Linked DNA regions of Homo sapiens: region 2 is linked to region 1. The links come from fine-mapping of genetic effects on gene expression. A gene starts in region 1. The other region holds a variant in brackets. All regions are shown on one strand. Distances are between the middles of the regions.

Region 1 (11,513 bases):
CACCCAAAATTGTGAAGGATACGGAACCTCATTGATGAGTCAGGATAGACTGTGGGTACCTAGATGGTAGAGACATAGTATAGTAGACTTTGGGACATAGAGGGTGGAATGACCTTTGGTGGCCTGGGAAAAGTCCCGCCTGTGAGATGTCCCTAGCAAAATCAAGACCAGGAGTGCTGATGTGCATTATCGTCATGAACATGTATTGGATGCTTACTGTATACCAAGCACCAGCCAAGTACTTCCATGTGGTTCTTCATTTAGCCCTCACGACCCCATGAGATAATCACTATTCACATTCCATTTTACAGAAGACAAAACGGAAATAATTTGCTCAAGGTCACACAATTAGAAAGGAGTAGAATCTGGGCTGGGCACAGTGGCTCACACCTGTGATCCCAGCACTTTGAGAGGCTGAGGTGGGTGGATCACTTGAGGTCAGGAGTTCGAGACCAGCCTGGCCAACATGGTGAAGCCCCATGTCTACCAAAAAATACAAAAATTAGGGAGGCCGAGATGGGCGGATCACCTGAGGTCAGGAGTTCGAGACCAGCCTGACCAACATGGAGAAACCGCATCTCTACTAAACATACAAAATTAGCCGGCATGGTGGTGCATGCCCGTAATCCCAGCTACTCGGAGGCTGAGGCAGGAGAATCGCTTGAACCCGGGAGGTGGAGGTTGCTGTGAGCTGGGACAGTACCATTACACTCCAGCTCTGGGCAACAAGAGTGAAACTCTGTCTCAAAAAAAAAAAAAAAAAAAAATCTGGGCGTCGTGGTGCACGCCTCTAGGCCCAGCTATTCAGGAGGCTGTGGCATGAGAATAGCTGATGTTTCAGTGAGCCGAGATGGTGCCATTGCACTCTAGCCTGGGTGACAGTGAGACTCTGTCTCAAAAAAAAAAAAAAAAAGTAGTGGACTCTGGATTTGACCTTGAGCACCCTGTACAAAGCCACACCTCATTTGCCAGGCCACCAAGCAGGGGAACTGTTTTCCAAATGTTCTCTTGGAAAGCTGGGTGTAGTGGCTCACAACTGCAATCCCAGTATTTTGGGAGCCTGAGGTGGGAGGATCACTTGAGCCCAGGTGTTCAAAACCAGCCTGGGCAACATTGACCCTGTCTCTGCAAAAAATACAAACATTAGCCAGGCATGGTGGCTCACGCCTGTAGTCCCAGCTACTCTGGGGGCTGAGGTGGAAGGACCGCTTGAGCCCAGGAGGCTGAGGCTGCAGTGAGCTATGAGCATACCACCGCACTGCAGCCTGAGTGACAAAGCAAGACCCTGTCTCAAAAAAATTTTACAAATTTTCTCTTAGGACTCATCTAACTTTCCTGTGAATGTTCCCTTTTTCCTTGAGCTAATGAGGGAGGTTGCCCGTCAGATCTCCTTTCACCCAAATGGAACATGTTGCTTTTCCTTAGAGATCCTTGATCCATGGTCAGTCTAGACCCTATTGGGTTGATGAGTAAGTTTCTTTAGGGGCTCTGTGAACAACTTTGAGAACAACTTTGTGTGCTGGTGCATTGATGTGTTTTTTGGGGAAAGCATCTGTAACTTCCAGCATATTCTTGAGAAGGGTTGACTTAGAAGTCTCCTGACTGTACTGTTTTCAGTCTTGTTATCTCCCTCCAGCAATTATATTTTATTTTTTGAGATGGAGTCTCACTGTGTTGCCCAGGCAGGAGTGCAATGGTGAGATTTCGGCTCACTGCAACCTCTGCCTCTGGGTTCAAGCGATTCTCCTGCCTCAGCTCCCAAGCAGCTGGGACTACAGGCATGCGCCACCACGCCCGGCTAATTTTTTTTGTATTTTTATTAGAGATGGGGCTTTCACCATGTTGGCCAGGCTGGTCTCAAACTCCTCACCTCAGGTTGTCCACCCACCTCAGCCTCCCAAAGTGCTGGGATTAGAGGCGTGAGCCACCGAGCCCGGGCACACTATTTTTAACTGGAAGCTGCTTTCCTATGTCAGTCCTCTAAACATTAATTTTTATAAAAGTGTGTAAAACCTTCCTAGGAAAGATAAAAATAAATTTTAAAAATTGTTTCTAAATGAAATGTCAATATCAGAATTTGAACAACCACTTAAGCTATGGAGTTTTCTGAAATGAATAACCATTAACTGTGTTTGGTTTTCAGCCCCTGTCTATTAAGTGTATTCAGTGTTTTCAGGCCTATCACAATCGTTTTTCCTTTTTTTAAAAAAAATTGAAGGCTGGGTGTGGTGGCTCACACCTGTAATCCAAGCACTTTGCAAGTCCGAGGCAGGTGGATCACCTGAGGTCAAGAGTTTGAGACCAGCCTGGCCAACATGGTGAAACCTCATCTCTACTAAAAAAATAAAAATTAGTAGGCCAGGCGTGGTGGCTCACACCTGTAATCCCAGCACTTTGGGAGGCCGAGGCGGGTGGATCACATAAGGTTGGGAGTTCGAGACCAGCCCGACCACCACGGAGAAACCCCGTCTCTACTAAAAATACAAAATTAGCCAGGCATGATGGCAGGTGCCTGTAGTCCCAGCTACTCGGGAAGCTGAACCAGGAGAATCGCTTGAACCTGGGAGGCAGAGGTTGCAGTGAGCCGAGATCTCGCCATTGCACTCCAGCCTGGGCAACAAGAGCGAAACTGCGTCTCAAAAAAACAAAAAACAAAAAAATTAGCTGGGTGTGGCGGGGCAGGTCTGTAGTCTCACCTACTCGGAAGGCTGAGGTACGATAATCACTTGAACCCGGGAGGTGGAGTTTACAGTGAGTCGGGATCCTGCCATTGCACTCCAGCCTGGGTGACAGAGCAAGACTGAAAAAACCAAAAATTTAAAAAAAAAACACTTCCCTCCTAAGGTTCAATCCAATTCATTTAAACTTTTGCGTGTTTTTCTTATATCAGTTAAAATAGGGATTCAATATCCTTAGAAATATAGCCTTTTCTGTTTTAAATATAACATCTAAAAATTGTAGTAAAATACAAATAACAAATATTTACCATGTTCATCATTTTTAAGTCTAAAGTTCAGTGGCGTTAGATACGTTCCTGTTGTGCAATATTATAGACTTCCTTTTTTTTTTTTTTTTTTTTTTGAGACGGAGTCTTGCTGTGTCCCCCAGGCTGGAGTGCAGTGGAATGATCTTGACTCACTGCAACCTCTGCCTCCCTGGGTTCAAGCGATTCTTTTTGTTTTTGTTGTTGTTGTTTGTTTGTTTGTTTGTTTTTGAGACGGAGTCTCGCTTTGTCACCCAGGCTGGAGTGGTGGAGTGCAGTGGCGCGATCTCGGCTCACTGCAACCTCTGCCTCCCGGGTTCACGCCATTCTCCCGCCTCAGCCTCCCGAGTAGCTGGGACTACAGGCACCCGCCACCAGGCCTGGCTAATTTTTTTGTATTTTTTAGTAGAGACGGGGTTTCACCGTGTTAGCCAGGATGGTCTCGATCTCCTGACCTCGTGATCCGCCCGCCTCGGCCTCCCAAAGTGCTGGGATTACAGGCGTGAGCCACCGTGCCCGGCCTCAAGCGATTCTCTTGCCTCAGCCTCCCTAGCTGGGATTACAGGTGCGCGCCACCACGCCCGGCTAATTTTGTATTTTTAGTAGAGACAGGGTTTTGCCATGTTGGGCAGGCTGGTCTTGAACTCCTGACCTCAGGTGATCCGCCCGCCTCGGCCTCCCAAAGTGCTGGGATTACAGGCGTGAGCCACAGCGCCCGGCCAGCTTTTCAATCTTCCAAATTTTGGGGGGATGTACTTAAAAAAATGATCTGAAAACATTTTCCTTAGAGTTTAAAATATGAACTTGAGAGTTTTTTTGTTTTTTAATATGGAGTCTCACTCTGTCGCCCAGGCTAGACTGCAGTGGGGCGATCTCGGGTCACTACAACCTCCACCTCTCGGGTTCAAGCAATTCTCCTGCCCCAGCATCCCCAGTAGCTGAGATTACAGGCGCCCGGCACCACGCCGGGCTGATTTCTGTATTTTTAGTAGAGAAAGGGTTTCACCATATTGGCCACGATGGTCTCAAACTCCTGAACTCAGATGATCCGTCCACCTCGGTCTCCCAAAGTGCTGGGATTACAGGCGTGAGCCACTGCGCCCAGCCAAATGTGAGGGTTTTAATGAACATCTCATATCTTCTGGTTGATTTGAGCAAAGCTCCTGCCCCCTGCCAGGCTTTGGGTTCGGCCTCCCCCAGACCGGGTCTCCGGATTCGCAGCCCCCTGGGCGGGGTCTCCATGTCGCCCGCAGCGCGATGACGTCACGTCTGCGGGTCCCGCCCCCACGTAGGTCTCGGCCCTTCGGACCCGGCGCCCAGCCCCCGTTCGCCCTGCCAGGCCCGGGCCGCCCGCTTGCATCCACCTCCTGTCCGGACAAGGGGTCGCCTCGTGAGGAAACTAGTCTGGAGTTCCCACGCCCGTCCCGGAGGAGGACGCGGGCGGGGCGCCCGAACTGCGGGGAGAGGGCGATTCCGCCCCGGGCTGAAACCAGTTCGCCCAGAAGCCAGTGTCCCCGCAGGGCGGGACAGCCACGCGTGTTCGCAACGCTCCCGTCACTCACCGGCAGGGGGTGGGCCCTAGGGAACTACCCAGTCAGGACGGGCGGGGGCGGGGCCGAGACAAGTATCCAATGAGGGACGCCCAATCGGAATCCGGGGAACTGCCCAATTTACAGCGCCAGGGGACGGACTGGGGAATTCTCCAATCAGAGTCGCCGACGTTGGCAGCACTGTCCAATCAGAAGCGCGGCTTCCCGAGCTCTGTCTAATCAGGCCCCTGGGACGGGACGCCTCTGTCCTAGCCGTGAGTGCCCCGCCTGCCCCTAGCGGTCCCTGGCGTCCCGGTTCCTGTCGCGCTCACCTGCGCCGGTAGCGAAGAAATCGCCCCGGGACATGGTGAGTGTGGCGCAGGAGAGGATCCCGGTGCGGGGCAGCAGGAACCGGCGACCGCCCGAGACCGCGGCTTGGGGGGAGCTGAGGGACGCGGGGGGCGGCCCCGGCGAGGGCGGCGCAGGACGGGAGCCTGGGCCCCGGGGGTCCCGCCCGGCCCCGCCTCCCGCGCTGAGGTCGCGGCTAGGGCGCTCCGAGCTCCGGGTCCCCGCCCGCCTCTGGCCCCAAGGCTGCAGAGCGGGGAGCGGCGCCCGGAGCCCGACTCCGTCCCCGTCGTCCCGGGGTCCCCGCGTCCCTGCGCTCCCGACCCCCCACGCCCCGCCCGGGGCCGCGACGCCTCGGAGCGTTTCGCTGCGGCTTCGGGACCCCCGGGCCGCGGGAGGCAGAGTCGCCCGAGACCCCGAGGTGCGGTCCAGGCTCCCCCGGGACCCGCCCTGGGGCCGACGCCGCGGTGCCTCCTGGGGTGCGGGTCCCTGGTCGGTGCCGCCTCCGCTCGCGCTCCCGCGGCTCAGCTCCTTGGAGGCCCCGCGCCTCCGGCCGCGGTCTCTGGGGGACCCTGGGTTCCTCCCGGGACAGCCCGGGAGCGGTGGGGCCTCGGCGGGGGCGGAGACGCCCCCACCTGCAAAGGCAGCCCCTGGGGCGTGCGAGGTTTCCTCCCCTGAGTCCCGGTTTTCCTTCTTGAGGACTTCTTGTCCCCTCTGACCCCAAGATGCCTGGGGTAGGTAAGGGGAAAAAAAACAAGGGTTCCTGGTCCCTGGGCTCTCACACACAAGGAAGAAAAGTAACTGAAAAGACTAGAGAAACAAGGGAGAGCGAGGACCCCAAAAGCAAACGCACGCAGACCCACAGCGGGGACGCCCGGGAGGCTGGTGCATTAGTGTCCTCGGACTGCTGTAGCAACTGACTGCAAACGAGGGGGCTAAAACCACGGAAATATATTCTTTCACGGTTCCCTAGAAAGTGTGGATTTGAAGACGTTTCTCAGTTCTGTTTTGAGTACTAGCAATGGGATTCCTTGCTGAGGCAACACCTGAGTTGGGGGTGGGAGGGCGTCCGTCGTGGTAGCCTGGCCAGACTTGACCCCTCCCTGGGTTTGTCACTGTGAAAAGATTTTCCTTTTTTCGAGTCAGCAGTTTTTAGGAAGTGAAACGTACATTTAATTAGTAGAAGTTGGAAGATAAAATATTTCCAGGCCGGGCGCGGTGGCTCAAGCCTGTCATCCCAGCACTGTGACAGGCCGAGGGGAGCAGATTACTTGAGGTCAGGAGTTGGGGACCAGCCTGGCCAACATGGAGAAACCCCGTCTCTGCTAGAAATACAAAAATTAGCTGGGCGTGGTGGCGGGTGCCTGTAGTCCCAGCTACTCGGGAGGCTGAGGCGGGAAAATCACTTGAACGCAGAAGGCGGAGGTTGCGGTGAGCTGAGAACGCGCCATTGCACTCCAGCCTGGGTGACAGAGCGAGACTCCGTCTCAAAAAAAAAAAAAAACTTCCAACGGGGTGAATTTCAGGAAAAAAATTAAAATCTGTGTCTTACATTCCATTTGTTAAACATTCCCTGGAGTGTGTGTCGTTTCTCAGATCTGTTATTTTCTGTTTTCTTTTATTACTATTATTTTTTTGGGAGCTCTGTTGCCCATGCTGGAGTGCACTGGTGCGATCACAGCTCACTGCAGCCTCCACCTCCTGGGCTCAAGCAATCTTCCTGCCTCAGCCTTCTGAACACAGGGACTCCAGGTGTGTGCCGCCATGCCTAAGCTTTTGTATTTTTTTGTTTCTAGGGATGGGGTCTCATTCTGTTACCCAGGCTGGTCTCGAACTCCTGAGCTCAGGTGATTCTCCCTCCTCGACCAGCCTTGTTCTTTTCTTTTGAATGACAATAAATAGGATTCCAGGGCCTAAACTTCAAAATGTTACTGGGGAGAAGAGTCTCAGAGAAACAGAGAAAATCTCCTTTCCACCATACGTGCAGAAAAATGAATACATTGCCACGAAACATGTTGCAGATAAATTATACAAATTTACCAAAATATGTTATTCTCCTTGACATGGTAGAGAATTTTTGACGGTGGATGATTCTGTTCTGCTTCCAATACTGCAGTACCCTTACCTTAATTCTATAATACATTTTTTGTTGTTCCTGAAATAGGTAGAATACAAGATATTTTTCTTGTTTAGATGACAATTTGTCCCAGCTCCTTATATTAAAGTGTTTATCCTCTGCAATGCCGGCCCTGGCACTGATCAGATTTCCCCGAACACAGGGGCTGCCTCAGGGCTGTGTCCCTTTACTTTGTTTTTTTGTTTTGTTTTGTTTTGAGACAGGGTCTCGCTCTATTGCCCAGGCTAGAATGCAGTGGTGCTGTCTCGGCTCATTGCAATCTCTGCCTACTGGGTTCAAGTGATTCTCCTGCCTCAGCCTCTAAAGTAGCTGGGACTGTAGGCACCTGCTACCATGCCTGCCTAATCTATCTTTCTTTTCTTTTCTTTTTTTTCTTTCTCCCTCTTTCCTTTCTCTCTCTCTCTTTTCTTTTTTTTTTTTTTTTTTTTAAAGAGGGAGTTTCACCCTTTTCGCCCAGGCTGGAGTGCAGTGGCAGGAACTTGGCTCACTGCAATCTCTGCCTCCTGTGTTCAAGCAATTCTCCTGCCTCAGCCTCCTGAGTAGCTGGGATTACAGGCATCCGCCACCACGCCCAGCTAATTTTTGTATTTTTAGTAGAAATGGGCTTTCACCACATTGGCCAGGCTGGTCTCGAACTCCTGACCTCAGTTGATCTGCCCGCCTCAGCCTCCCAAAGTGCTGGGATTACAGGCGGGAGCCACTGCACCTGGCCATTTTTATGTATTTCTAGCAGATACAGGGTTTTGCCATGTTGGCCAGGCTGGTCTCGAACTCCTGACCTCAGGTGGCCCGCCCGCCTCAGCCTCCCCGAGTGCTGGAATTATAGGTGTGAACCACCATGCCCCCAACCAGGGTGTTTTAAAATTGGCGGCTGGTCACAGAGGTCCCCTGTGCCTGGCTGTGCCAAGATTTCAGACACCCAGGAGGAAAGCAGATCTTTAGGGTAAACACATTGTTGCATAAACAGTTTCAGCACAATAAGCAACTCCTCTATTGGGATGAGAACCCTCCCCAAATCCAGGCTAGCTTATGCCAGCCAAGGGCCAACTTTGCAGGCAGGACTTTCTAAGGTTAGGGGCCCTCAGGCCTTTGGGTTGGCTCTTCCTGCGTCCACCCCCTAGCCCACTGCACAGGTGTCTCTACCACAGAATTATTATGGGAGGCCCCTATGAAGTAGGAGGAGACCACACTGCAGTAATGATTTCACTTGTGCTGTTTAGGGCTCCTGGACTTAGCCAGGTAAGGTAAATTCCATTGGCTGCAATGGAATCATTATTTTTTTAATTTCCATTTTTATTTCAGATTCATGGGCACATGTGCAGGTTACAAGGGAATATTGCATGATGCTGAGATTTGGGCTTCCATTGAGCTTGTCACCCAGATAGTGGACATGGTAGCCATGAGGAAGGGTGTCAGCCCTTTCCCCCTCTGTCCCTCCATTTGGAATCCCCAGCGTCTATTGTTTCCAGTTTTATGTCCATGTCTACCCAAGATTTACTTCCCACTTATAAGTAAGAACATGCCATATTTGGTTTTCTGTTTCTGCATGAGTTTGCTGAGGATAATGGCCTCCAGCTGCATCCATGTTGCTGCAAAGGACATGATTTCGTTCTTTTTTATGGCTGTGTAGTATTCCATGGTATAGATGGACCACATTTTCTTTAGTGCACTGTCTTTGGTCACCTAGGTTGATTCCATGTCTTTGCTATTGTGAATGCTGCTGCAGTGAACACACAAGTGATGTGTTTTTTGGTAGAATGATTTCTTTTCCTTTGGGTAGATGCCCAGTAGTGGGATTGCTGGGTTGAATGGTGGTTCTGTTTTTAGTTCTTTGAGAAATCTCCATACTGCTTTTCATAGAGGTTGTACTAACTTACATTCCCTCCAACCATGTGTAAGCATTCCCTTTCACAGCCCTGCCAACATCTGTTATTTTTTAGCTTTTTAATAACAGCCATTCTGACGGGTGTGAGATGGTATCTCATCGTGCTTTTTATTTGCATTTCTCTGATGATTAGTGGTGTTGAGCATTTTTTCATATGCTTGGACCACAAAGGTCTTAGAAAGCCAGGTGGCTTATTAAGTTTCTGTAGTATTCTCTTCCTTCCCCCGTTACTATTTTTTTACTGGAGAGAGGCACCAATTCCTGCACAGCATAACTCTGGCCAGTAAGTCAAACTTAGACCTGGGTGTCTTCCAGGGACAAGGCAGTGCCCTGAGTGCCAGGGTAAGTACAAAACAAGTCCAACCCCCTAGGGGACAGGTAGTCAGTCCCCTTGGAAGCACATTGTTTGCAATGGTCGGGACACCCCAAGCAGGACTTAACATTGGTCAGGCAGTCGGGTTAGCAGGGCTCCCAGTGTGACCTCCCACTGTGGGCCTCCTGTCCTAGGGTTCTCAGTGTAGACCGAATAATTCAGTTTAGTCCTCAGTTTCAGAGGCTCTGCCTGAGGCATCATTTTCAAGCAGTTTTGCATGTCTGTGATACCAGTTCATTGACCTCTCCAGTATGGACGACACCTGGAGATGTCCTTTGTGGGAAGTTCAGGAACTGGGGCCACTTGCTGCTGTCTCAGGGTTGTCGGATGTGATCAGAGGCTTAGCAGCCAACCTGAATTCAGAGCACTCACAGCTGCATGCAACACTTCCTTCAGGAAGAGGGGAGCGCTTCGGTCACAGCTCTGAATCAGACAGTTCCATCCAAGGTCAAGCCAGTCCTTCACTGTGGGCAACTGAGTGAGCCACATGGACCAGCCAGCACCCCTGATGTTTTTCGTAGTTCAGGGCCTTACCCGGGAGTGTCTAACTCTGCAGTGTTTCCTGAATTAGAGTCCTGTTCATTGAGCCTAGCCCTGCTGTCAGGTCAGCATAGTGAAGGCTGAGTTAGCAGTGGACATAGTGAGGATGAATTAGCAGTGGGCAGTGTCAGGTTTTAGCTTACAGTCAAGTCCACGCCGTTGGGATCTGAGTTCAGAATTCCATAAAACACCGAAGGCTTTGCTTCTGCAGCAGTAAAGCTAGGTATTGCCGGGTTGGACAGCTGTGTTCCAAGATCAAGTTGCAAGCAAGAGTTTCCTAAGCGCTTTTGGTCTCGTGAATCTTAGAGTCCAAATTGACAGTTAAAAATATGCACATGTGGTTTGAAAACCATCAACTCTTGAGGTTGTCAGAAATAGGTTTTCATAAGAGCGCATTAACAAACTAGAAACTACTACTTCACATTCCAAAAGTGTATCTCCACTTAGAGATTGCCTCTCTTTTCATTTGTTTCCCTTTTCCCTGAACCTCCAATAGGAAAAATGATAGTAAAAAATCAGTTGTGGAGACCTAATCTTAATACTTAGAGTTTAAATTCCAATCCATACACCAGGGGCAAAGAGCAAAGAAGTTGTGTCTGTCACTTAAAAAAACAAAACAAAAAACTGATTGAGATGATCCCTGTAGTGCTTTTAAAGTGACAAATATTTTACCATTTTCTCTCATTTTTATCACACATGCCGATGCGGTAGTATTCCTCGTCTCTTAGAGCTTCTGGTAGCCCCAAGTGTTCCTTTGCTTGTGGCACCATAATTCAGTCTCTCCCTCCATCTTCCACGTGGCCACCTTCCGTGTGTGTTTCTGTCTTCATGTGACATTTTCCTCTTATAAAGACACCAGTCAGCGGAGGGGGGAGGGATAGCATTTGGAGATATACCTAATGTTAAATAACGAGTTACTGGGTACAGCACACCAACATGGCACATGTATGCGTATGTAACTAACCTGCACATTGTGCACATGTACCCTAAAACTTAAAGTATAATAAAATGGTTAAGATGGTAAATTGTATGCTATATGTATTTACCACAGTTAAAAAATTGGAGAAAAAATCCTTGGAATATAGTAGATGCAGGTTCAAATCCTGCCTTCAGCATTTATTAGCTGAACTGATGCTAATAAAGTTACTTAATCTGAAAAAAATTTAAAAAAAATAAAAAATAAAGACACTAGTCATATTGGAGTAGGGCCCATTGGATTAGATGATGTCATTTTACTTGATTACATCTGCAAGGATCCTATTTACAAATAAGGTTATAGTCACAGGTACCAGGAATTAGGACACGGACATATCTTTCTGGGGGACCACGTCACAAGAAACCGCTGGCAGTTCAGCATTTACAGGGATAGCATTATGCTAGCAGGGAAGACCATGGCTGGTCAGGAGGTAAACCAAGGGGAAGCAGGGAACACTCCAGCCTTTTTTTTAACCAGCAACAGGTTTTAAAAAAGCACGGAGTGTCCCCTGCCTCCCCAGGGTTTACCTAAAGTTGTGCTCCAGCCTTGGTAATTAACTTTCTTTTCCCTCCCAATGCAACACAAACTTTTACCATTTTCCTCACCCAAAGCTTACCTTTCAGAACATGGGGGCCCTTTCTCCTACCTGGAGAAGAAAACAAAAACCAAACGCTGCTCTTTGTTTTCTTTTCTTTTTTTTTTTTTGAGCTGGAGTCTGGCTCTGTCGCCCAGGCTGGAGTGCAGT
Region 2 (11,513 bases), 440 kb after region 1:
CAAAAGACTGCAGGGAGGGCATTCCAGGCGGGGGCGCCACCTGGGCAAAGGCCGGGAGATGGGAGCGTGCAGGGCCCGTGGGAGGGTGGAGAGATCCGGGGCAGGGAAAGGGCGCGGCTGGGTCCTCCCTCGCACGCGCAGAACCGGAGCCGGCAGGGCCCGGGCGCCGCGTCTTCCTGCCCTGCCGCCTCCACTCTGCTGGAGGGAGGGAGGAATCCCGGAGGCCCTCCCGGAGGCCGGGGACTCGGCTGAGGTGGGTGTCGCCGCCCACAGGGGACCGGAAGCTGTTCGTGGGGATGCTGAACAAGCAGCAGTCGGAGGAGGACGTGCTGCGGCTGTTCCAGCCCTTCGGGGTCATTGACGAGTGCACCGTGCTCCGGGGGCCTGACGGCAGCAGCAAAGGTGACTGGCGGGGGCCGGGGCGGGACTGCGAGAGGGGCCGGGCTAGCTCTGGGGGCGGGGCCTGTGGGGAGGGTGGGGCCTGCAGCATGGGGAGGAGCTGGCTCTGGGGTGGGACCCTGGGGAGGGGCGGGGCTTCTCCAGGGGTGGAGTCTGTGGGTGAGGCTGCAGGGGCGGGGCCTTGGAGAGGGGCGGAATTGCAGGGGCGGGGCCTGGGGAGGGGATGGGGCTGCAGGGTGGGGAGGAGCTGCCTCTGAGGGCGGGGCCTGTGGGGCAGGGCCCTGGGGAGGGGTGGGGCTTCTCCAAAGGTGGGCCCTTGGGGAGAGGTGTGGCTGCAGGGGTGGGGAGGAGCTGGCTCTGAGGATGTAGCCCTGGAGAGGCCCGAGGCTTCTCCAGAGCTGAAGTCTGTGGGTGAGGCTGCAAGGGTGGGGTCTTGGGTAGGGGAGGTACTGCAGGGAGGGGTGAAATACGTAGAGTTAGGAGGGACTGGCTCCAGGGGGAGAGGCCCTGGGAAGGGTCGGGGCTGAGCATATAGGGGGTGGGGCTGGCCAGGTGGGGCGGGGCCAGGCCAATAGGAGGCTGGGGCTGGCTGGGAGAAGCTGGTTCACAGGGGTTGGGTGGAGCAGAGACTGGTCCCGCTTGATCCTACCTGCATGCTCTCTCTGCATGCTGGCTGTGGGGACGGGCCCTGAAGAGGGGCGGGGCTGCGGTGGGGTGGGCGGAGATGCAGAGGCGTGGCCTTGGGGAAGGGCAAGGCTTCTCCAGGGGCTGCTTATGGATGGGGATGCAGGGGCAGTACCTTGGGATGAGGCGGTGTCTGGTGGGAGGCGGGGGGGCTTCTCCAGGTGCTGCCTGTGAGTAGGGATGCAGGGGCGTGGCTTGTGATGGGGCGGGGTCTGGGGAGGGGCGGGGCTTCTCCACGGACAGAGTTACCTGTGCCCTGTGGTCTCAGATTCCTCCACCTGACTATTCGTAAAACTGTTTCCTCCTGGTTCTGTCTATGTGATTTGTCCATATGACTGACTGGTGGTCTCTGGTTGTGTCTGTCTGTCTATCTTCCTGCCTGAGAGTCCAAATGACGGTGTCTGGCGGTCTCTGTCCACAGAGCTCATCATGTGGGACCGACTCCACTCTGGTCTTTCTTACCTTACTAGAACTGAATGTGTCTGACGGTTTCAGACCATTACCTGGTTCTTCCTTTTTAAAATTGAGGGCTGGGCGTGGTGGCTCACGCCTGTAATCCCAGCACTTTGGGAGGCTGAGGCAGGTGGATCACGAGATCAGGAGTTCAAGACCAGCCTGGCCAAGATGGTGAAACCCGTCTCTACAAAAAATACAAAAATTAGCTGGGCGTGGTGGCAGGCGCCTGTAATCCCAACTACTCGGGAGGTTGAGGAAGAGCATTGCTTGAACCCGGGAGGCAGATGTTGCAGTGAGCCGAGATCACGCCACTGCACTCTAGCCTGGGTGACGGAGCAAGACTCTGACTCAAAAAAAGAAAAAAATTGAGATGTCTTCCACATCCTACCAAATTCACCCTTTAAAAATGTACAATGAAGTGCTTTTTTTTTCTATTCATAAAACCGTGCAACCATCACCACTATGTAATTCCAGAACATTCCACCCCCTCCCTCCACAATATGGCTGGCCCTTCCATAGTACTCTACCAGTCTGGAGCCAGGTGCAGTGGCCTCTGTATGTTCTATGGACTTTGTCGGTGGGACTGTGTTTCCATTCACCTGTGTCTGGTGGTCTCTGTGTGTGTGGCTGTCTGTCTGCATTAGCCTGGCTGGCTGTGTGGGTGACCAGGTCTTTGTCTAACTGTGGCTGTCTGTCTGTGTGATTCTCCTCCATTCTGACCCTTGATCTGGCTGATTGTCCAGCTGTCCGTCTGAGCAAACGGCTGGCTGTCTTTCTGTTATCAGTTCTCTCTGGCTGCATGTGTCTGACACTGGCCATGTAGGTCTCTGTGTCCCCTCTCCTGTGGCCCCCGCTCAGCCAGTCCTGTGACCCCATCACCCTCTACCTCTTCTTCTTCTCTTGGAGCAGGCTGTGCTTTCGTGAAGTTCTCCTCCCACACGGAGGCGCAGGCGGCCATCCACGCCTTGCATGGGAGCCAGACCATGCCGGTGAGTTGGAGCTGCCCTTGGCCGTGGGGGTGGGGGTGGGAAAGGGGTGAGGGGGACAGGGATGAAACAGGCCATATTCCTACCGTCGCTGTCATCCGGTAGCCCCTGGCTGTCCTTCAGAGGGGGCACAGGTGGAGAAAGAGGCGCAGTCCCTGGCTGTGGTCCCTGGAGTGGGTATACACGTGTGAGTGTGTGCAGATGTGGAGGTGAGTAGGCAAGCGAAGTGTATGTGTGTGCATGGATGTATTACAAGTGTGTGCGTGTGGGTGAGTGTGCATGTCTGGGTGTGAGTGTGCCCGAGACTGCATGCATGTGTGTGTGTGAGTGCGTGTTTGAGTGTGTCATTACTAGTAGGCGAGTGTTATGTGAGTGCTGTGTGCACGAGGGGTGTGCGTAAATATGTATGGATAAGTGTGCCATTGTGTGCTAGTGTAGAGATACTAGTGCGTGTGCGTGTATGAGAGTGTACATGTGTGTTTCTATGTGTGTGAGCGTGTGTGTGAGTATGCCTGGGCCACGGGGGAGGAAGCACATGTGTGTGCATCTGCAGGTGCATTTGTGGGCAGGTTTGTGTGTGTGTGTGTGTGTGTTTGTGTGTGTGCATGACTGTGAGTGTGTCAGTATTGTGGGTGATTGTGTACACGTTTGTGAGTATATGCAGGTCTGTGTGAGTATAGGTTGTGAGTGGGTGAGTGTGTATGTGTGTACATGTAAGGGTATCCTAAGGGGATGACACCTGGGTTGGATTTGCTGAGGCCAGGAGAGGCCCTGACAAAAAGAAAGGCTGGGAGGTGGCAACAGGTAGCCCAGAGGAGCCATAGAAGATGGGGCCGCAATGCGAGGCTGAGAAGCCTGGACTTTCTCCTAGGGCAGTGGGGAGCCACAGACGGTTTAGAGCAAGGGAGGAGACAGGCCAGGTCGGTTGCAAATATCCCTTTGGGGCTAATGTAGAGGATGGGCAGGGTGCAAGACTAGAGGCTGGGAGGCCAAAGAGGAGGCTAGGCCAAGGTCCAGCTGAGGTAGGAGGAGGCCTGAGCTGGGGCCAGGTGGACAGGGAGGAGGGCTGATCAGAAAACAGACATTAGGGTGAGAATGGATGGGGGGCCTGTTGACTCACTGGTTGAGGGAGGGGTGGGGATTGGGGACAGGTCCCAGAGTCTGCAGCAGTGAGAGGCTGGGGAGGACCAAGGAGGCACTGGGGACTGCCCTTCCCCCGAGGAAGGAGTCCCCAGAAGCCATTGTTCCTGCACCCACATCTCCGAATCTGCTACAAGGAAGATGGGACCTGAGAGGAACAAGCCACCTCTCTCAGCTCTTAAAACCCAGGGGAGGGGCTTAGTTCAGCACAAGGGCAAGTGTTCCCAAGCTCAGAGATGTCCCAGGACAGGGCTGGTAGGCGTCTGGAGGAGTGAGTTCTCTATCGGAGGAGGCATGTCAGCGAAGACAGGGAGGCAACAGGGTGCATCCTGTGGGAGCCAGCTCACCAGGGAGGAGCTGGTCGAAGGGGAAGATATTTTCCTTCTTGAGCCCCAGAGTCGGGGTGTGGGCTGGTTTGTGAGGGGTGGGAATGGCCTCCTGGCCCCTGCCTCAGGCCTCTCTTTTATTTTTTTGAGACAGAGTCTCGCTCTGTCGCCCAGGTTGGAGTGCAATGGGGCAATCTCAGCTCACTGCAATCTCCACCTCTCGAGTTCAAGCGATTCTTCTGCCTCAGACTCCCAAGTAGCTGGGATTACAGGCACGCGCCACCACACCTGGCTAAATTTTGTATTTGTAGTAGAGACGGGGTTTCACCATGTTGGTCAGGCTGATCTCGAACTCCTGACCTCAGGTGATCTGCCCACCTTGGCCTCCCAAAGTGCTGGGATTACAGGCATGAGCCACTGTGCCC[G/A]GCCACCAGGCTTCTCTTGTTACCGATATCAGGACCTGTTGCAGCATCCTGACTGCACAGACAGACACTCCCTGGCTCACCGCTGCTTCGACTGCCCAGGGCTGCCTGTTGGTGGATTTCAGCCCAGCCCTGTGGCACCTGGACAGCCATGGAGTGGGATGGCAGTCACATGGGTTTCTGTCTGTGCCCCAGCAAAGCAGGGCCCCCAGTCCCCACCAGTGGCTACTGTCCGCTGTCCACTGGGTGGATGGGCCACAGGTTCATCTGCCTGCAAAGGGCACAAAAATCTGGGGCTGGGGCTGGGCGTGGTGGCTGTAATCCCAGCACTTTGGGAGGTCGAGGCGGGCGGATCACTTGAGGTCAGGAGTTAGAGACCAGCCTGGCCAACATAGTGAAACCCCGTCTCTACTAAAAATAAAAAAAAAAATTAGCTGGGCGTGATGGCGGGCACCTGTAATCCCAGCTACTCAAGAGGCTGAGGCAGGAGAATCACTTGAACCTGGAAGGCAGAGGTTGCAGTGAGCCGAGATCGCGCCATTGCACTCCAGCCTGGGCAACAAGAGCGAAACTCCGTCTCAAAACAAAACAAAAAAAATCCGGGTCCGAACTGCCTGCTAGCTCCAGGGCATGGAGGACAGAGTCAGGATCATCTACTTGTCCCGCCTTGTTCCTCTCCTGTGGCTGGAGTCTCACCTGTTCTCAGGTGTGGGTGAGAATTGGAGGCTCACCCATCTGTGCCCCAGTTGTTCCTCTCTGGAGACTGGAGTTTCAGGTGTGGGGTGACAATGGCAGGTTCGTCCACCTGAGCCCACTGTTTTCCTTCGGAAGCTGGTTTCTCACCTGTTCTCAGGTGAGCGGAAGTCATAGGTGCCTCCAGCTGTGCCTCCCTGTTCTCCAGCGGCGGGATTCTCCATCTGTTTTGAGTGTGTGGCTGACAGTCAGGGCCCCCACCTGTGCCCCATCACAGCCTCCTAGGCCTGGGCGCTGCACCTGTGCAGATGCTGCTGGGCCCAGGATGCTGATCTCCACGCGGTCCTCGCTGTGGCCCTGGCTCCTGGGGTGGGGGCCCGTGGACATGGCTGACAGCCACTGGCATTACACCCCTCACCCAGGAGGCCTGAGCTAACATGAATCCAGGGACCCCAGAGTCCTGGCTACCTCCCAGCCCGTTTCCCTCCCTGCTCGCCGCTGCCCCTGCAGGGAGCCTCCTCCAGCCTGGTGGTCAAGTTCGCCGACACGGACAAGGAGCGGACGCTCCGGCGCATGCAGCAGATGGTGGGCCAGCTGGGCATCCTGACGCCGTCCCTCACATTGCCCTTCAGCCCCTACAGTGCCTACGCCCAGGCTGTGAGTGACCCAGTGACAGCTTCGGGGCTCCGGCTCCGTCTCTCTCAGTCTCTGTCTACTCTCTGTCGGGCTCCTGCCTCTCCCTCCATCTCCCTGACTCAGGGTCCTCTCCTGGCGTGGCTGAACCCCAACTCCAAATTGAGACCAAGCTCAGACCGAGCCCCTAAATCCAGAAGACTGAGCCCTAATCTCACAGTAACACCCAATCTTGGACCGAGCCCCAGAACCTGGCTATGCTCCACGTCTAAATTAGGCCCAATTCTGGCTGAACCTCCAAATCCAGACTGATCCCAAACTGAGACCTGACCTGATCAAGCTCCACCCTGGCTGAGACCTGATCCCAAGTTGAGCCCCAGCTCCTGACTGAACCCTGATCCCAGGCTGAGCCTCAATTTCTAACTAAACCCTCATCCTAGATGGAGCCTTGATCTCAGTCTGAGCCTCACTTCCTAACCGAGCCTTGATCCTAGATTGAGCCTTAGTCCCAGGCTGAGCCTCGCTTTTCTAACTGAGCCCTGATCCTAGGCTGAGCCTTGATCCCAGGCTGAGCCCCAATTCCTGACTAGATTGAGCCCTGATCTCAGCCTGAGCCTCACTTCCGAACCGATCTCTGCTCCCAGGCTGAGCCTTGATCCCAGTCTGAGCTCCAATTCTGATCTCAGCCTGAGCCAAGATACCCAGCCTGACCTCCTCACTAGTAACTGGGGTACCAAGCCTCCCCTCATAAGCCATGATCTCAGGGCAGATATCACCCCAACTGTGACATGTCTTCACCCCCAGCTCATGCAACAGCAGACAACAGTCCTGTCCACCTCGGGCAGCTACCTGAGTCCCGGCGTGGCCTTCTCACCCTGTCACATCCAGCAGATAGGCGCCGTCAGCCTCAACGGGCTGCCTGCCACACCCATCGCTCCTGCCTCTGGTGAGCCTCCTCCAGGCACCCAAGGATGGGTGGGCAGGGCTGGAGCCAGAACTGGCCTCCCCATGACCCTCTTCCGCTCTGCAGGGCTGCACTCACCCCCGCTGCTGGGCACCACCGCTGTGCCTGGCCTCGTGGCTCCCATCACCAATGGCTTTGCAGGTGTCGTGCCCTTTCCAGGTGGGCACCCTGCCCTGGAAACCGTCTATGCCAATGGCCTTGTGCCCTACCCAGGTAAATTGGGGTCGTCCTCTGGGGCCTAGGAGAGTGGTGGGGAATAAAGATGGTGTTTCTGGAACAAGTATGAGTCCCTACATCACAGTGCCCAGGGAACAGAAGGGCAGGAAAAAGGGTGTCTCCGCTGAGCAGATAAGAGCTGTGGACACAGGAAGGGAGGCCGTGGCAGGGTAATAACACATTAAAACGGTGCATCTGGATGTTTCTGAGCTTAAATTCCAGTTCAGTGACCCTGGATGGGCTCTTTACGTCCCTGAGCCTCAGTTTGCTCATCTGGAAAATGGGGCAGATAACATCAGTAGCCTCAGAGGGTTGCATTGACAATTTAATCTGTGTGCAAAAGGCTTCACACAGGGTCTCACTCTGTCGCCCAGGCTGCATTGCAGTGGCACAATCTTGGCTGACTGTAACCTCCGCTTCCCAGGTTCAAGTGATTCTCCTGCCTCAGCCTCCCAAGTAGCTGGGATTACAGGCGCATGCCACCATGCCCGGCTAATTTTTGTAGTTTTAGTAGAGATGGGGTTTCACCATGTTGGCCAGGCTGGTCTCGAACTCCTGACCTCAGGTGATTCACCTACTGCGCCCAGCCCATAAATCTTAATTATTCATCTGTGTCATTTGGGGAGATATCAATGCCTGGATTCATTCATTTATCCATTCAACACAGAATGAATGACCCACTGATTTAGGCTGCACCTGCTTTCATGAAGCAGAGGTCCTTCCTTTCTCTATGCTACACCTACAATTTTAGGGCAAACATCTTCCAACATCTAATTTATGTGAAGTAAGTTATCTGTCTTTCCACCATGTAGGAGAATTTGTTTCTAACTTTTTATTTTTTTAATTATTTTTATTTATTTAGTTTTAGAGACAGTGTCTCACTGTGTCACTCAGGCTGGAGTGCAGTGGTGTCGTCGCAGCTCACTGCCGCCTCCATCTCTGGGGCTTAAGCAATCCTCCCACCTCAGCCTTCCTTGTAGCTGGGACTACAAGCATGTGCCATCACGCCCGGCTAATTTTTAAATTTTTGTACAGACGGGATCTTGCTGTGTTGCCCAGGCTGGCCTCAAATTCCTGGGCTCAAGCAGGCCTCCCAAAGTGCCGGGATTATAGGTGTGAGCCACTGTGACTGGCCTTAACATTTTATTTTGAAATGATTGGAGGTTCACAGGGAGTTACCAAAATACCACAGAGCAGTCCCAGGTACCCTTCACACAGCTTCCCTGATGCCAGCAGCTTATCTAATCATAGGTCACTGTCAAACCCAGGAAACTAACACTGGCACCATACAATTAATTCAACTCCAGACGGTATTCAAATTTCACCATTTATTTATTTAGCGACAGAGTCTCACTCTGTCGCCCAGGCTGGAGTGCAGTGGCGTGATCATAGCTCGCTGCAGCCTTGAACTCTCGAACTCCTGGGCTGAAGCGATCCTCTCACCTCTCACCTCAGCCTCCCAAGTCACTGGGACTACAGGCACGTGCCATTATGCTTGGCTAATTTTCGATTTTATTTTATTTTTTAAGAAATGAGGGTCTTGCTATGTTGCCCAAGCTGGTCTCGAAACTCCTGGGCTCAAGCGATCCTCCTTCCTCGGCCTCCCAAAGTGTTGGGATCACAAGTGTGAGCCACCACACCCAGCTGATTTCACGAGTTTTTGTATGCACTCTGTGCACGTGTGTGTGTGTGTGTGCAGGGGCGGTTAATTGCCATTTTGTCACAGATGCAGACTTGTGGATCTCCCACAGTGAAGATACAGAACTGCTTCTTGCCCACAAAGTGAACTCCTTCCTGCCACCCCTTTGAAGTCACAGTCACCACCACTATCCCCTGCCCTCCAGCACACTCTCCATTCGGGCAGAATTGTTTGGCTGAATTTTTCCCCAGAATCATCAGCTTTGGTGGCCTGGACAACTTCTTCCCTCCCCTACCCCTTTCCCTAGCGGTAGCAGGAAGGCTACAGCTAGATGGGGGAGCTACAGGGTGTCTGATGAGGAAACTCATGTGGAGAGGGAGACGGGGCAGGGGATGGGGGCAGGTGGTGATTTGAGGTGGAGGCTGAAGTCCTGGTGAATCCAGGGAGTAGAGAGGAGTGAAGGGTCCCCCTTGGGAGGCAACCGGGTCGGGATAGGGAGAGGGAGATGGGGACGATGGTGATCTCTCTCTGGAGTCCGAGAAACCCGGATTCCAGTTCAGCTTCTGCCATTTGCTATCTGAGTGGCCCTGTGCAAGTGGCTTCACCTTCCTCGGCCTCAGCTTCCTGGTCCTACAGAGGGTTTAGCACAGAGGAGAAGCTGGGCGGGGTGTTTGTTGCTGTCCTTGCGGCTCTTAAGGATCGGGGGTGGATGGAAGACTTCTGCTGCTCCCGCCCCACTCAGCCCCTCTGTCTGCCCGCAGCTCAGAGCCCGACTGTGGCCGAGACACTGCATCCTGCCTTCTCCGGAGTCCAGCAGTACACAGGTAGGAGGCAGCCCGCGTGCCCGCGCTGGGCCCTGGCCCCGCCCCCGCCTAGGGCCCCGCCCCCAGGGCCCGCCCCGGACGTGTCGTTCTTCTGTGCCTAGCCGCGCCTCCTACCTCTGGCCCCGCCCCTCAGGGCCCACCCTTAGCCCCTTGTCCTGTATTCAACCCCGGGCCCTGTTACTGGTCCCACCCCACCACCACCTATACCCGCAAACAGGACCTTCCCTTGTCCTTTAAGGACAGCGCTTACCCATGGCCTTACCCTCTCATGTTCTGTGTTGGGGAGAGGGAATTCCCCTTGACCACGTCTCTAGCTCTGACCCAACCCCAGCTCTCGGCCCTGCCCCTTACCCTCCCTCCTGCAGCTCCTAGCCCCGCCCCTCACTTCCTGCCTTTACTCTGACCACGCCTCTCTGATAAAGCCCCGCCCCTACCTCTGGCTCTACTTCTTAAGGCCTGGCTGTGACCCCGCCCTCTGCTGCGGCCCCGCCCCTTAACTCATGGTCCTGCCCACATAGCCCTCCATCAAGTCACGGCCCCGCCCCACTCATGCCCTTCATCCCAGTCTTGCCCCCGCCCTCCACTGTGACCCCACCCCTCAAGCAATGGTCCCGCCCACTCTGGACTGTCCTGTAGCCTTGGCCCCGCCCTCTACTGTGGCCCAACCCCTATACCCCTCCCCTCACGCCATGGGGTCCGCCCCCACCCCCCCTTCCCCGCCCCGTCTCGGTATTGGCCCTGCCCTCCACCATGGCCCCGCCCCTCAGGCAATAGCCCCTCCCCGTTTCGTCTGTGATCTTGGCCCCGCCCTCTGGCCTGGCCCCGCCCCCAAACCCTCCCCACAAAGGCCATGATCACACCCACTCCTGCCTTGGCCCCACCCTCTTATGGCCCCGCCCCCTCCCCGCCCAGCGGCCCAGGCCGCCCACGTGGCCTCACGCCCCTCCTCGCCCTGTGTCTCGCTCCGGTCTCCGCAGCCATGTACCCCACCGCGGCCATCACGCCCATCGCGCACAGCGTCCCCCAGCCGCCGCCCCTCCTGCAGCAGCAGCAGCGAGAAGGTGAGGCGGCCGCAACCTCCCCTGGGCGCCAGCCCCGCCCTCTGCCCGCCCTGTCCACCTGCAGGCTCCGTGTCTGGCCCGGGCCTCTGGGACCCGCGGGGCTGAGAGTGCGGCCTGGGGGCTGGACAGGCCAGAGTTGAGTCCCGGTGCAGCCGCTGACCCCTGGGAATCTCCCTCTCTGTTTCCTCCTCCGAAAAGAGAACCATGCTCGCCCCGACCCCGTAGGAATAGCAGTGACTTCCTACCAGCCCTCTCCAGAACCAAGAGTGATTCTCTGGATTTTTTGGAAAGGAAACCCTTTTTGAGGCTGGGGCATGGCACGATGAGGTATCAGGTAATGAGGCCTCCCCAGTAAAGCCAAGGCTGTCGAAGGAGGGAGGGATTCGATTCTGGAGTCTGACAGTCAGGGTTCAAATCCATACAGTTCTTGCCATGTGCGGTAGATCCCGCCTGTAATTACATAGCGTTTTGGGGGCCGAGGTGGGAGGATCACTTGAGCCCAGGAGTCCAAGACCAGCCTGGCTTAGCAAGACCCCATGTCTACAAAAAAATTAAAAATTGGCCAGGTGTAGTGGTGTGCACCTGTAGTCCCAGCTACTCAGGAGGCTGGAGCAGGAGGATCACTGAGCCCAGGAGGTCAAGGCTTCAGTGAGCTACTATCTCCCCACTGGACTCCAGCCTGGGTGAGAGAGCAAGACTCCATCTCAAAAAAAAAAAAAAAAAAAAAGGCCGGGCACGGTGGCTCACGCCTGTAATCCCAGCACTTTGGGAGGCCGAGGCGGGCGGATCACAAGGTCAGGAGATCGAGACCATCCTGGCTAACACGGGGAAACCCTGTCTCTACTAAAAAATAGAAAAAATTAGCTGGGTGTGGTGGCGGGCGCCTGTGGTCCCAGCTACTCGGGAGGCTGAGGCAGGAGAATGGCATGAACCCAGGAGGCGGAGCTTGCAGTGAGCCGAGATCGCACCACTGCACTCCAGCCTGGGCGACAGAGCAAGACTCCGTCTCAAAAAAAAAAAAAAAAAAAGAAAAGAAAAGAAAAAAATCCCAAGCTGGTAACAACCCAAGT

What was found. PIP is the estimated chance that this variant, and not a neighbour inherited with it, causes the effect.
Region 2: its variant is fine-mapped to the expression of ZNF555 in cerebellar hemisphere (GTEx, PIP 0.97).

The regions. Positions count from the first base shown.
Region 1 is chr19:2,836,697-2,848,209 of GRCh38, forward strand. ZNF555 (zinc finger protein 555) reads left to right here and starts at 4,779. Exons shown (of 4, transcript NM_152791.5): 1 at 4,779-4,879. The coding sequence starts at 4,877. ZNF554 (zinc finger protein 554) reads left to right here. Exons shown (of 5, transcript NM_001102651.2): 5 at 1-39. RefSeq lists silencers at 4,240-4,349, 4,360-4,549, 4,770-5,069, 5,110-5,159.
Region 2 is chr19:3,275,583-3,287,095 of GRCh38, forward strand. CELF5 (CUGBP Elav-like family member 5) reads left to right here. Exons shown (of 13, transcript NM_021938.4): 4 at 274-402; 5 at 2,449-2,528; 6 at 5,617-5,763; 7 at 6,544-6,685; 8 at 6,770-6,916; 9 at 9,320-9,382; 10 at 10,360-10,443. Among named protein-coding and RNA genes, the nearest start is that of CELF5, 57 kb to the left of the region's middle. RefSeq lists silencers at 61-190, 421-720. The variant G/A (reference allele first, on the strand shown) is at 4,417.